Linked DNA regions of Homo sapiens. The protein of the gene in region 1 purifies or fractionates together with the protein of each later gene. This does not show direct contact. Each region holds a gene or a part of one and is shown on either strand. Other genes may lie near its edges.

Region 1 (4,266 bases):
GTGTTCTCATCTGTACAGTAGAAACTGTACTGCCCACACATTCTGTCCAAGGTGTGGCACCGTGTAGATTTGGATGAGCATGTTTGTGGGATGGGAGGGTCAGAGTGTGGCTCTGACATCAAAAAGACCTGGGGGGTAAGTCCCAACTCTGTCCCATCTTGGCTGTGTGCTCTTGGGCAAGTTATTCCCCCTCTTTGAGCCCAAGACCCAAACTAGACTGACACGGGTCAGACCTTAGAGGACACTGATACTAATGCATCCTTCTGCAGATGGAGAAACTGACTCCTAGAGAGAAGAAGGAACCTGCGCAGGAAACTGAGGAAGATGGTAGCTGAGCTGGGACCTGGGCCTCAGCCAGAGCCTTCCCCAGATGTCTTACTGGTGTTCTCTTCTGCCTGCAGCCCCCTCCCCATTCAACCAACCATTGCCTTAAAAACAAAGCTACCCCAGGCAAAAACATCTCAGGGACACATATTACACGTAGGTCTGGTTAAACCACGAACAAAAAGACAGCAGGTGCTTTGTAAGGTACATGCCCCTCCACTGAAAGTGACAAGGATGTTGTTGGTCTGTGAGTTCTATTGAAAAGAGGTTCTAGGCTGGGAGCAGTGGCTCACGCCTGTAATTCCAGCACTTTGGGAGGCCGAGGCAGGCGATCACGAGGTCAGGAGATCGAGACCATCCTGGCTAACGTGGTGAAACCCCGTCTCTACTAAAAATAAAAAAATAAAAAATTAGCCGGACATGGTGGCTCCTGTAGTCTCAGCTACTTGGGAGGCTGAGGCAGGAGAATGGCGTGAACCCAGGAGGTGGAGTTTTTAGTGAGTGGAGACTGTGCCACTGTACTCTATCCTGGGCAACAGAGCGAGACTCCGTCTCAAAAAAAAAAAAAAAACACCAAGAAAAAAAAAAGATAAGAGGTTCTAGATGGATCTCCCTTGGAATACCCACAGGAGTCTATACAAGGGCTGAGCTGAAAACTTCTGGGCCTTTCTGAGGGATCCAATGTATTTTGCATGTCTCATTCGAAAATGCTAGAATGTGCAAGCAGCCCTGGAGCTCATTCTTTAAACAAAATAGGACATGCCACACACAGAGACACACACACACACACACACACACGCAGGCACATACTCATGCTCCCGGAGGACGGAGGAGCAGCAACAGGTCCAAGCCTCGAGGCTGCCCTTGGTGGCTGTCTGCCACTGTGCAGGGAAGGAGGGGTCATCAGTGATGCTTGATGCTGCCACCTCAGCCAACACCCCCAACACATACACACACATGCACGCATGTACACACACACACACTGAAAGCCAGGCCCAGAAACCAGGCCAGCCCACGATGTCTGCTGCCATGCAAGGCCTTGGGCTAAGCGCTGATAAGGTTCAAAAGTGATGAAGACACAGCAGCAATGGGGTCTGAGACTGAAGAATGGGGAGGGCAACACACAAGACACACGCACACAGACGGAGTCACAGCCCTAGTTATTCATGCAGACTCATGCATCACATGCCACACACCTACTCAAGATACACACACACACTCACAGCATCACTCATTCACAGACTCATGCACCACACAATATACACACACAGACCCACCCTCACAAAAACAGATACAAAGACACACATAGATACGTGTACACACAGTGCAAAGAGATACACTTAGGTATCTCCAGACAGATGCACAGACATTCTCATACGCACACACTCACAGCCACAGGTCCTCACCCATGCAGGTATACACACCAGAGCACGCAGTCCAGGCATCGAGATGCTACCCCAAGGACTATAAATTCTGTCTATGGGGTTCTGGGAGGTCATTGGCCATGAGCCCTAAAGACTAGACTGCCCCCCTCTCCACGCGCTGACCCCAAGGAGAGTGGAGGGGCAGAGGAATGGCAGAACCTCTCTGATTCTCACCCTCTGAATGTGGGGTGGGAGTGGGGCGGGGGGAGTGAAGGGACCCCTACTGCCAGGGGAGCAGCTCACTGACCCGTGACTCTCAGGGAGGGAGTCCCCTGGCTCTTGGAGGTGGCTCCAAGGACTGAGAATTCGGGGGCTGGGAAGGGAGGTTTTATTTTCCTTCTGCCTTTTCCTGAAGCGTGCCCCACCTTCGGCAGCCCCATTCAGAGCCCCTCCTCCAGCACACCCTGTGGGGGGCGTCCCCCTAGCAGCTTCTCTCTCTTGGAAGGTCCCCTTCCTGAGCCGCGCCCACCTGCTCCTCCACAAGAGGAGGTCCTATCGGGATACATCCAGGTGTGCCCCACACCTGGAGGGCCCTCACGCTACATCCGCCCCCGCAAAAAGCCTCAAATGGGCCAAAGCCTCCCCACACCTACGCCCACCCCCAAACTCCCTCGCTGCGCCTCCTGCCCTGCGGGAGGTCAATGCCCACCCAGGTGAGCCCCACACCTGTTCTGGCCGCCCCCCCGCCGCCAGAGGCCACCCTTCCACGAAGACTCTTTTCCCGTTTGGCCGCTGCTGCCGGGGGAGTCCTGCCCAGTGCCCCCACCCCGGCACCCACCTCCTTCTTGACGGTGCGTAGCAGCCTCTGTCGGGTCTCCGCCTCTGTGGGACAAGAAACGAGAGCCGCGGGTCAGCCGAGAGAGGGTGCGGGGGCCGGGCGCTGCCCTCCCGCCGCCCTCGTGTCCAGCGGCCTCTTACCCGCGGGGGCCGAGGCCATGGCTCCGAGCGCTGCGTTCCGAGTCCCAGGAGGCGGTGGCGGCGGTGGCGGCGGTAGCTCCTCCGGCCGCGGCGCTGCTGCTGCAGCCGCGGCGGGGCGGGGCCGAGCGCTGAGTGACGGCCGGAGGGCGCCCGACGTCAGGACCCGAGGCGGCCGCCCCACCCCTCCGGAAAGCCACCGCTCGGCGGGGCAGCCGGGTCGCCTGCGCCAGGAGCCTTCGCGCCAAGCACGCACGCTCCCTCCCGCGCACCCAGCGCCCGAGCCTCTCAGGCTCCCCCAACCTCCACGCCAGCGCCCGCGTCCCTCCCTCTTCCCTAGGGCGGGGAAGGAAAGCGTCCGTCCTGAACCCTCCTCTGTGGGCCAGGCTCCAGGAAGTCACAGGAAATGGTGGGGCTACTACCGATATTCTCCAAGCCTCAGTTTTCTCATCTTTAAAATGGGTATAATGTGGTATAAAATGGGCATAATGGGTCTCAGAACGATCTGAGCCTTAAGTGAGATATTGGATGTGAAGCCCTTAATACAGACCCAGGGGGAAAGGCCAGCGAGCATAAATGCTTGCCACTGTTACTGTTATTATTATTAATTATTATTATTGAGGGTCTTCCAGCCGGTCGCGGTGGCTCACGCCTGTAATCCCAACACTTTGGGAGGCCGAGGCGGGCAGATCACTTGAGGTCAGGAGTTCGAGACCAGCCTGGCCAACATAGTGAAACCCCGTCTCTACGAAAATACAAAAATTAGCCGGACATGATGGCGAGCTGCCTGTAATCCCAGCTACTGGGGAGGCTAAGGCAGGAGAATCTCTTGAACCCGGGAAGCAGAGGTTACAGTGATCCAACATGGCGCCATTGCACTCCAGCCTGAGCGACAGAGTGAGACTCCGTCTCAAAAAATAAAAAAAATACAAATACAAAAATTAGCCAGGCATGGTGGCGTGCTCCTGTAATCCCAGCTACTCAGGAGGCTGAGGCATGAGAATTGCTTGAACCCTGGAGGCAGAGGTGTCAGTGAGCCAAGATTGTGCCACCACACTCCAGCCTGGGCAACAAAAGTGAAACTCCATCTCAAAAAAAAAAAAAAAAAAAAGAGTCTTCCAAGATACACTGGTTATCCATTCAGGAGAGGCCGGGACTTAAGTGGCTCCCTCCCCGACATGCAGGTCACTGGAGGAGTGGGGTTTTCCCAGGAGTCTGGCCCCAAAAGGAGGCACTTGTCAGCCAGGATCTCTGGGGCTGAGCAAGCAGTGGGCTCTGTGGGAAAAGCCTTGTTCCATCAAGAGCCCCTGGTCACCCCAAGTCCCTAACTGTATCCACCCAGAATGCAACTCAGGTCAATATTTATTGAGCACCTACTCTGTGCCAAGTGACTGTGCTAGAGATTTCTAAGTGAGCAAGACAGACAATGAACTCTGCCCTCATGGAGTTTAGGAGGCGGACAACAAAATATGTAAGAAAAGGACAGACCATGCTGGAAAGTTCTGGAGAAAAATTAAGTAGGCAAGGGGGACAGGGAGGGCCCAGACCCCTGGGGATCGTATTCTGAAGTAGGGTGGTTGAGGGAGGCCCCACTGAGCAGGTG
Region 2 (3,500 bases), on another chromosome or scaffold:
CCTTAGGAGAAGGCAGAGTAGGACCGCAGCTTAGCGCTTCCATGGAGAGGAGACGAGAGGACTGTGGGCAGCAGATTACGGAGGAAAATGGGAGGGCCCTGACTCTTCTAGAGGATGCAACACCCCTGCGCCTGGCCTGGGCCCACCCCGTGGACTCAGCCAAGCCCCTACCTTCCTGCCAGCCGCCTCTCCCCACTGGAGCAGGCCTGGAGACGGTCAGAAACTTGTCCCCCTGCCCTGGCCCAGCGAACAGACCTCCCTGAGCCCAGGTGCCCACCTCAGAGGCCGAGTGGGAGAAAGACAGAGGTGATTTTGCTCTCCCTGAAGCTGGGGAGGGTACTGCTGCCACGGGGCTACAGGCTGATGACCCAGGCAGAGGGGATGACCTGGGGGCTCAGGGCTCTATGCCCTCTCTTTCCATGGACATTTGAACATTTCCACGAGACAAAAGGAAAAACACAAGAAGACGTCCATAAGGCTGGGCACAGTGGCTCAAGCCTGTAATTCCAGGACTTTGGGAGGCCTAGGTGGGCAGATCACCTGAGGTCAGGAGTTCGAGACAAGCCTGACCAATGTGGAGAAACCCTGTCTCTACTTAAAGTATAAAAAAATTAGCCAGGCTTGGTGGCGGGTGCCTATAAGCCCAGCTGCTCGGGAGGCCGAGGCAGGAGAATCGCGTGAACCTGGGAGGTGGAGGCTGCGGTGGGCCGAAACGAAGCCACTGCACTCCAGACTGGGCAACAAGGGCAAAACTCCGTCTCAAAAAAAAAAAAAAAAGACGTCCATGGGGAACAAAAGAGCAGTCCCAGCCTGCAGGGACATCCCCTGTCTGTTCTGACCAGAGCAGTGTTTCTGATTGAAGTGCATGAACACTACCCTTCAAGGGGGCTGCTTGAGTTACTGCTGGGCCTGAAACCCATATTTATGAAAAGGCCAGAAGACACTTTGATTTGGGAAGATAAAACAAAAAGATGGTCCCAGCGCAGTGGCCCACGCCTGTAATTCCAGCGCTTTGGGAGGCTGAGGTGGGAGGACTGTTTGATGCCAGGAGCTCAAGACCAGCCTGGGCAACACAGGGAGACCTGTCTTTATAAAGACAAAAATAAAAACATTAGCCAGACGTGGTGGTGCATCTGTAGTCCCAGCTACTCAGGAGGCTGAGGTGGGAGGATCACTTGAGCCCAGGAATTTGAGGCGATGATCACACTGTATTCCAGCCTGGGTGATGGAGTGAAATCAGCTTTAGAAGGAAAAAAAAGACACGCCCACATTTCAAATGTGCACACACACAGGCTGATTTCCTTAAGTGGGTGTGTGTATGCAGGTACTCCAAGCTAAATGTCCACCAATAGGGAAAAGTCCATTGACTGTCAATGGAATATTAACATGAAAGCTTTTCAAAAACAGTATATTTTATTTTTTTTTGAGATGGAGTCTTGGTCTGTCGCCCAGGCTGGAGTGCAGTGGCTCAATCTCGGCTCACTGCAATCTCCGTCTCCCAAGTTCACGCAATTCTCCTGCCTCAGCCTCCCGAGTAGCTGGGATTACAGACATGTATCACCATGCCCGGCTAATTTTTGTATTTTTAGTAGAGACAGGGTTTTGCCATGTTGGCCAGGCTGGTCTTGAACTCCTGACCTCAGGTGATCCGCCCACCTTGGCCTCCCAAAGTGCTGGGGTTACAGGCGTGAGCCACTGCGCCTGGCCAAAATTTGTCTTTATCAAGAGATTAGACTTGATGTTTGATTTCATTTTCCTTTCTATCATAAACCTGCCACTTTGTCAGAAAATCAGCTTAAAAACTTCCATAGACTTTTGTCCATTTTGACACTAAGAGGGTCACGGACGAGCTGGCAGCTGGAGCCAGTGTGTGAGGGTGGTGTTGAGGGCTGGGTGCAGGGAGGGGGTTTGGGGGGCGGCTCTCATGGGAGACCGACTCTGTGCCTTGACTCTCACAAGGGTAGGGTCAGGATCTCCCCCGCTTCATTCCCTTTGGAATTGCATAGTCCCCAGCCCTCCCCATGGGGACCCGGCCACAGCCCCCGCCGTCGGCAGCTCACCTAGTCGGGACTGTAGTGTGCCGTCATCGGTGGACGCCATGTCATTGAGTCTGAGCAGCCCCCGGCCTCTCTCCACCCAGGACTGTGAGGTCTTGTCAAAGACAAACAGCTTGCACTGCATCTGGAACACAGTGGCCGCCGGTAAGCAGGGACCCCAGCTGGTGTCCTGCTGCAGCCACACCCTGAGAGTCGCCCTTTAGCCTGTGGGGACTGCCAGGGCCAGCCAACGACGGCCTGGGGGCCACCTTGGTCAGTTTTTTGTCCTGCCCTCAAGCTAGAACAGGCTTTACATTGTATAAGGGGTATCTGAAATTAAAAGAATCACTAAGGAAATGAAAAGCAAAACAACGGTGAGAAGCCTCTCTGCGCACTCTAGGACGGCTATACCCATGTGGGGAAGCTGGAACCCTCACACACTGCTGGCGGGAAGGCCGCATGGTGCCACTGCTGTGGAAGAGTCTGGCGGCTCCTCAAACTGCTTAACAAGGAATTACCACATGCCCAAGCAATTCCATTCCTCGGTATGTACCCAAGAGAAATGGAACATTTGTTCGTGTTCACACACAGATCGCACATGAACGTGCACAGCACCATCATTCACGGTAGCCAAGTCTCAAGGAGGAATGGAGTGACACACATGGTCCGCCCCTACAGCGCATCTCACTCAGTCTTAATAAAGAACAAGGCTCCGACCCCCGCTGCAACGTGGATGAACCTCTGGCTCAGCGAGAGAAGCCAGACACGAAAGGCCACATAGTGCGTTGATGCCATTTATATGAAATGTCAAGGACAGGCAAAAAACAGAGACAGGAAGTGGATCTGTGGCTGCCAGGGGCTGGGGAGGGAGGAGGAGTTACTGCGAATGGACAATGCTCTTTCTGGGGGAATGGGACAGTGTTCTTTTTGGGGGCAGAAATGTTGTACGTTAGATTCTGGTGAAAGTTGTCTGACTCTGTGAATATACTAGAAACCACGGAATTGTATGCTTTAAAAGGATGGATTATATAGCATTTGTACTATATTTCAATACAGCAGTTTTGTATATATAAACAAAGAAAAATACGAGACAGACACCCCTACATGGCTTTCCACATACCCCCTAAGTCAATCTCTTTCAACATGAACAGATGACAAAGTGGTAAGTGGGAAAAAAGAACAGTGCTCTTAAGAACGCCACGATACGCCACCCGGTTTACAGACACAGACACCTGCTTATGTGCCACGGGAGAGGAAGCACATGGATGCTGCCCAAGCCGGGTGGTGCGGCCTGAGGAGCAGGAATGGGGGATGCCAGGAGGGGACGGTGGGGTGGAACCTCTGGCCGCACCTGATCTTTTCCCTACGAAGACACCACAGGATGCCAGGTGACAAATAATACAGTTGCCAGCTCTGGGCGACAAGAGAATATGTTTGGTATGACAGTCTTTGTCATTCCCTGAA
Region 3 (3,500 bases), on another chromosome or scaffold:
GGGGATCAGGAAGAGTTCAAGCTGGGAAAAATCACTTGGGGTACTTTTTGTAACAAGGAAAGGGAATTCAGTGTAGGTCAGATGAGCAATTCAAAGGGGTCTGTTTGGGATGCCATAATAATACCACAGACTGGGTGGCTGAAACAACAGAAATGTATTTCTCACAATTCTGGAGGTTAGAAGTCCAGGGTCAAGGTGCTAGCAAAATAGTTTCATTCTGAGGCCTTTTCTTGTGGCTTGGCTGAAACAACAGAAATGTATTTCTCACAATTCTGGAGGTTAGAAGTCCAGGGTCAAGGTGCTAGCAAAATAGCTTCATTCTGAGGCCTTTTCTCTTGGCTGGTAGGCAGCTGCCATCTTGCCATGTGCTCACATAGTGGAGAGAGAGTGTGCTCTAGTGTCTCTTATAAGGACACTAATCCTATTGGATCATGGCCCCACACTTAACGACCTCATTTAACCTTAGTTACTTTCTTAGAGGCCCCATCTCCAAATACAGCCATGGTGGGGATTAAGGCTTCAACATGTGAATTTCAGGGGGAATTTCCATTCAGTCTGTAAAAGGGCCTCAGGAAGTGGCTTCACCTAGGATCTGATCTTTGGCTCTAGGGGATCAGAAATGTGACTTTGTTTCTCCTGCACAAACTCATGGACCTGACATAGGGGAAGTCCAGTTATGAGAACCTGATATTGTGTATGGCATACTGCCAATTTATTAATTTACATAGTGGGCCTACCCACCATTAAGTTGTGTTTCTGCTATTCCTTTTTTTTTTTTTTTTTTTTTTTTTGAGAGAAGGTCTCACCCTGTTGCCTAGGCTGTAGTGCAGTGGTGTCATCTTGGCTCACTGCAACCTCTGCCTCCCGAGCTCGAGTGATCCTCCCACGTCAGCCTCCTGAGTAGCTGGAACCACAGGCGTGCGCCACCATGCCCGGCTAATTTTTGTATTTTTTATAGAGACAGTGTCTCACCATGTTGCCCAGCCCACTGGTTTTGAACTCCTGGGCTCAAGCGATCCGCCTGCCTCAGCCTCCCGAAATGCTAGGATTACAGACGTGAGCCACTATGCCTAGCCCATTTCTGCTATTCAAAACACTTCATTATGGTGCCAGCACCCTGTATTAGTCATCAGAAGGTTTTTCATTAAGTGTGGAACCAGAGTGAAGGGAGGGGGGTGGTTCTGGACAGTTCTAGGAGAATCTTGATGGACTGTGCCTGCCCTACACAGAGGACACCTGTCCAGTTGGTTCATTTTGACATCAGTTGTGTTCAGGCCCCAGAAGTGTTAGACCTGCCCTGTTGGTCTCATGTCCTGATGGTGACCATCAGAGATATGATTATGTTCCCCAAGACTCACCCCAGGTGTCCTGATGGACTTGTCTTCTCAGGGTGGGACATTCCTATGCACATCTGCTTGCTCCTCTGTGAAGGTGCCAACCTCCTTTCTGCCTCAGGGCCTTTATGCAATGGCTCTTCCCTCTTGGGGGAGAGGTCTTCCAAGATTGTGTTACATCTGCAGTGATACTTTCTCTTTCTTTTACTTGTTTATTATCTAAGTCTCACCTCTTCTTTCTTGCATGAAAACTCTGTGAGGGTTGGTTATCTCCCAGGTGCCTGGAATAGTGCTTGCACTCAGTAACGTGGGCTCTCAGTAATAACTTGTTGAATGAGTAAATGAATGAGTGAATGATTGGTTGATCCATCCACTTATGTTTCAGTTTGCAGTTTTTCCTTAGTATTATTTAGCCGTGTACTGATTATACTATTTTCTGTGCAAATGAGATATGGTAGATTTTAGTAATTTGTCGAAGAGATGCCAGTACTATTGAAAGTACAATCACCAAATTGCAATGTTGACAGGAAAACCCTCTGTTACTTACTTCCAGAAGTTAGGTTATTCTTTCAGCAATTCCAATTGCTAGAAGCTCCTCAGTATATTGAGCCCAGATCCATCCTGCTGACTTCAGTCCACTGAGCCATAAAAGCAGCTCTAATTCTTCTTCGACTTGTTAGTTGTGTCCTCCAAGTCCTCTGTTGACTGTTATGCAATGTGCTGTTTTTTTTTTTTTTTTTTTTGAGATGGAGTTTTGCTCTTGTTGCCCAGGCGGAGTGCAGTGGCTCAATCTTGGCTCACTGCAACCTCCACCTCCCGGGTTCAAGCGATTCTCCTTCCTCAGCCTCCCGAGTAGCTGGGATTACAGGCACGTGCCCCAACACCCAGCTAATTTTTGTATTTTTAGTAGAGATGGGGTTTCACCACGTTGGTCAGGCTGGTCTCGAACTCCTGACCTCAGGTGATCTGCCCGCCTCGGCCTCCCAAAGTACTGAGATTACAGGCGTGAGCCACCACACCCCACCCGATAATGGGGTTTTTTGGTGACTTCACCATCTTGGTCATTTTGATGGGACGTGTTGCTGTGGTTGTTCAGTGCCTGCAGGTGGTTCAGACCTGAATATACAACTCCTGAGGTGGACTGGAGCGTGGAGCAGAATGGGCCTCTGCCAAACCCCCATCCTGTCTCTTCCCACTCTGTTGTTAAACCGCGTGGTCTGATCTAGTATTGGCCTGAGGATTCTTTCTTCAGCAATTTCTTGTCACATTTCTTCTATGTGGCATGCTGAATATTTATGGGGTTTTGTGAAGAATAAAGATGTCTGAAAAATTCCATCAAAACAGGATGTAACAACTTGGGGACAGTACCTTCAAGCCTGCTGTTAATTTAAACACACACACACACAGACACACCCACACACACACTCCCCTTTCGTAGGTAATGAGAATGTCTTGCCACCCAATGTAACAAACACCTCTGAATTTTTTTTTGTTTTTGACAGTTTTTTGTCTCACCTAATCTGGCCACCTTTGTTTTGAGCGTGGTGCCTCCAGTGTCAATCATTGCTGTAATTTATGGGCGATATCTACGGAAACTGACCAAAGTCACTCAGGATTCCCTGGCACAAGCCACTCAGGTAAAGGCCCCTTCCTGTCCGCGTGGTTTCCAGCAGAATGGGGTCATAGCCAGGATCCTAGAGGGCAGATCCTAAGGGATGTACTTAGGTTTTTCAATGAAGTGCCTGCCTTTCCTTTCATTAGAAATTACCCCAAGATCCATGAAACTTAAACTACTCTGTTTTCTAGACTAGATTTCTACCCATATCTCAAAGTAGATCTAACTTCACTAAACATTTTATGGAGTCCTCACTTGTTACTATCACTATTTCTTTTCTTTCTTTTTTTTTTTGTTTTTTTTTTTTGAGACAAGGTACATGAGAAAAGTTTTTTCATGCACTCTAGGCTGGAGCGCAGTGGTACAATCACAGCTTAGTGAAGCTTTAACCTCCCAGGCTCGAGTGATCTCCCACCTCAGCCTCCTTAGTAGCTGGGACTATCGCCCCATGCCACCATGCCCACTAATTTTTAAAATTTTTTGTAGAGACATGATCTTACTGTGTTGCCCAGGCTGGTTTCAAATTCCTGGGCTCAAGTAATCCTCCCACC
Region 4 (3,500 bases), on another chromosome or scaffold:
GAAAGAATCTTAAGAGCTGTGAGGCAAAAGCACCAGATAACTTATAAAGGAAAACATGTCAGATTAACAGCAGATTCCTCAGCAGAAACCCTACAAGCTAGAAGAAATTGAGGCCCTACCTTCAGCCTCCTTAAACAAAAGAATCATCATCTAAGAATTTTGTGTACAGCAAAACTAAGCTTCATAAATGAAGGAGAGATACAGTCTTTTTCAGACAAACAAATGCTGAGAAAATTCGCCACTACAAACCCAGCACTGTAAGAAATGCTAAAAGGAGCACTAAATATTGAAACAAATCCTTGAAATACACCAAAATAGAACCTTCTTAAAGCATAAATCTCATAGGACCTATAAAACAAAAACACAATAAATAAATAAATAAATAAAAACCAAGGTATTCGGGCAACAAATAGCAAGATGAATAGAATAGTACCTCACATCTGAATACTAATGTTGAATGTAAATGGCCTAAATGCTCCATTTAAAAGATTCAGAATGGCAGAATGGGTAAGAAGTCACCAACCAAGTATCTGCTGTTTTGAAGAGACTCACCTAACAAATAGGACTAACATAAACTTATGGTAAAGGGCTGGGAAAAGATATTCCATGCAAAGGGACACCAAAGTGAGCAGGAGTAGCTATTCTTTTTGTTTGTTTTGTTTTGTTTGAGACAGAGTCTCACTCTGTCGGCCAGACTGGAGTGCAATGGCTCAATCTTGGCTCAATGCAACCTCCACCTCCCAGGTTCAAGTGATTCTTGTGCCTCAGCCTCCTTAGTAGCTGGGATTACAGGTGCAGGCCTGTCTTATAGAGGAGTAGCTGTTCTTATATCAGACAGAACAAACGTTAAAGAAACAGCAGTTAAAAAAGAGAAAGACGGACATTATGTAATGATAAAAGGACTTGCCCAACAGGAAAATATCACAATTATATATATATATATATATATATATATATATATATATATATATATATATGCACCTAATGCCAGAGCTCCCAAATTTATAAAACAATTACTGTTACACCTAAGAAATGAGATAGACTGCAACACAGTAATAGTGGGGAACTTCAATACTCCACTGTCAGCAATAGATAGGTAATCAAGACAGAACATCAACAAAGAAACAATGGATTTAAACTATAACCTAGAACAAATGGACTTAAGGGCTATTTGTAGAACATTCGACCCAACAACTGCAGAATATACATTCTATTCATCAGCACATGGAACATTCTCCAAGAGAGACCATATCATAAGCCACAAAACAAGTTTCAATAAATTTAAGAAAACTGAAATTATATCAAGTACTCTCTCAGACCACGGTGGAATAAAATTGGAACTCAATTCCAAAAGCAACCCTCAAAACATACAAACACATGGAAATTAAATAACCTGCTCCTGAATGATCACTGGGTCAAGAATGAAATCACGATGGAAGTTAAAAAATTATTTGAACTGAATGAAAATAGTAGCACAACCTATCAAAACCTCTGGTATACAGCAAAGGCAGTGCTAAGAGGAAAGTTCATAGCATTAAATGACTACATCAAAAAGTCTGAAAGAGCACAAATAGACAATCTAAGGTCACACCTCAAGGACTGGAAAAACCAGAACAAACCAAACCCAAACATAGCAGAACAAAAGAAATAAAGATCTGAGCAGAACTGAATGAAATTGAACCAAAAAAATACAAAAGATAAACAAAAAGCTGATTCTTTGAAAAGATAAATAAAACTGATAGACTATTAACAAAATTAACCAAGAAGATCCAAATAAGCTTCAGTTAGAAATGAAACAAGATATTACAACCAATACCACAGAAATACAAAAGATAATTCAAGGCTACTGTGAACAGCTTTACATACTCAAGCTAGAAAACCTAGAAGAGATGGATAAATTCCTGGAATTATACCACCCTCCTAGATTAAACCAGGAAGAAAGAGAAACTCTGAACAGACCAATAACAAGCAGTGAGATTGAAATGGTAATTTAAAAAACTGCCAACAAAAATAAGCCCAGAATCAGATGGATTCACAAATGAATTCTATCAGACATTCTAAGAACTGGTATCAATCCTATCAACATTATTTCACAAGACAGAGAAAGAAGGAATCCTCCCTAAATCATTCTGTGAAGCCAGTATCACCCTAATACCAAAACCAGGAAAGGACATAACAAAAAAGAGAAAACTATAGACCAACATGTTTGATGAATATAGATGCAAAAATCCTTAACAAAATACTAGCTAACCAAATCCAACAGCATATCAAATAGATAGTCCACCATGATCAAATGGGTTTCATACTGGGGTGGTTTAACATACACAAGACATTAATGGGATACACCACATAGAATTAAAAACAAAAAATCACATGATCATCTCAACAGACACACAAAAAACATTTGACAAAATCCAGCATCCCTTTATGATTAAAACCCTCAGCAAAATTGGCATAGAAGGGACATACCTTAAGGTAATGAAAACTGTCTATACTGAATGGGAAAAAGTTGAAAGCATTTCCCCTGAGAACTGCAACAAGACAAGGATGCCCACTTGCATTCAACATAGTACTGGAAGTCCTCGCCAGAGCAATCAGACAAGAGAAAGAAATAAAGGGCATCCAAATCAATAAAGCGAAGTCAAACTGTCGCTGTTTGCTGATGATGTAATCATATACCTAGAAAACCCTAAAGACTCCTCCAAAAAGCTGCTAGAACTGATAGATGAATTTAGCAAAGTTTCAGGATACAAAATTAATGTAAACAAATCAGTAGCTCTGCTATAAACCAACAGCAACCAAGCTGAGAATCAAATCAATAACTCAACCCCTTTTATAATAGCTGCAAAAAATATATATACTCAGAAATATACCTAATCAAGGAGGTGAAAGACCTCTGCAAGGAAAACTACAAAACACTGCTGAAAGAAATCATAGATGACACAAACAAATGGAAACACATCGCATGCTCATGGATGGGTAGAATCAATATTGTGAAAATGACCATACTGCGAAAAGCAATCCACAGATTCAATGCAATTCCCACCAAAACACCACCATCATTCTTCACAGAACTAGAAAAAACAATCCTAAAATTCATGTGGAACCAAAAAAGAATCTGCAGAGCCAAAACAAGACTAAGCAAAAAAAAAAAACAAATCTAGAGGCATCCCATTACCTGACTTCAAACTATACTATAAGGCCATAGTCACCAAAACAGCATGGTACTGGTATAAAAATAGCACATAGACCAGTGGAACAGAATAGAGAACCCAGAAATAAACCCAAATACTTACACTGATCTTTGACAAAGCAAACAAAAGCATAAAATGGGGAAAGGACACCCTATTCACCAAATGGTGCTGGGATAATTGGCAAGCCAAATGTAGATGATGAATAAGACTGAATCCTTATCTTTCACCTTATACAAAAATCAACTCAAGGTGGATCAAATACTTAAATCTAAGACCTGAAACCATAAAAATTCTAGAAGATAACAG

What was found. The genes of interacting proteins can lie anywhere in the genome.
Region 2: the proteins of SGSM1 (region 1) and RANBP3 purify together in Homo sapiens (affinity purification with mass spectrometry; one large-scale study listed by BioGRID and IntAct). This does not show direct contact.
Region 3: the proteins of SGSM1 (region 1) and ABCB10 purify together in Homo sapiens (affinity purification with mass spectrometry; one large-scale study listed by BioGRID and IntAct). This does not show direct contact.
Region 4: the proteins of SGSM1 (region 1) and PDGFRL purify together in Homo sapiens (affinity purification with mass spectrometry; one large-scale study listed by BioGRID and IntAct). This does not show direct contact.

What each region holds. Positions count from the first base shown.
Region 1 is NC_000022.11:24,804,745-24,809,010, reverse strand, and holds the start of SGSM1 (small G protein signaling modulator 1), read right to left. Parts: upstream 2,801-4,266; 5' UTR 2,686-2,800; coding exon 2,667-2,685; intron 2,571-2,666; coding exon 2,527-2,570; intron 1-2,526. UniProt on the Homo sapiens protein: Interacts with numerous Rab family members, functioning as Rab effector for some, and as GTPase activator for others. Promotes GTP hydrolysis by RAB34 and RAB36.
Region 2 is NC_000019.10:5,919,141-5,922,640, forward strand, and holds part of RANBP3 (ran-binding protein 3), read right to left. Parts: intron 2,182-3,500; coding exon 2,061-2,181; intron 1-2,060. UniProt on the Homo sapiens protein: Acts as a cofactor for XPO1/CRM1-mediated nuclear export, perhaps as export complex scaffolding protein. Bound to XPO1/CRM1, stabilizes the XPO1/CRM1-cargo interaction. In the absence of Ran-bound GTP prevents binding of XPO1/CRM1 to the nuclear pore complex.
Region 3 is NC_000001.11:229,541,708-229,545,207, reverse strand, and holds part of ABCB10 (ATP-binding cassette sub-family B member 10, mitochondrial), read left to right. Parts: intron 1-2,836; coding exon 2,837-2,971; intron 2,972-3,500.
Region 4 is NC_000008.11:17,636,216-17,639,715, reverse strand, and holds part of PDGFRL (platelet-derived growth factor receptor-like protein precursor), read right to left. Parts: intron 1-3,500.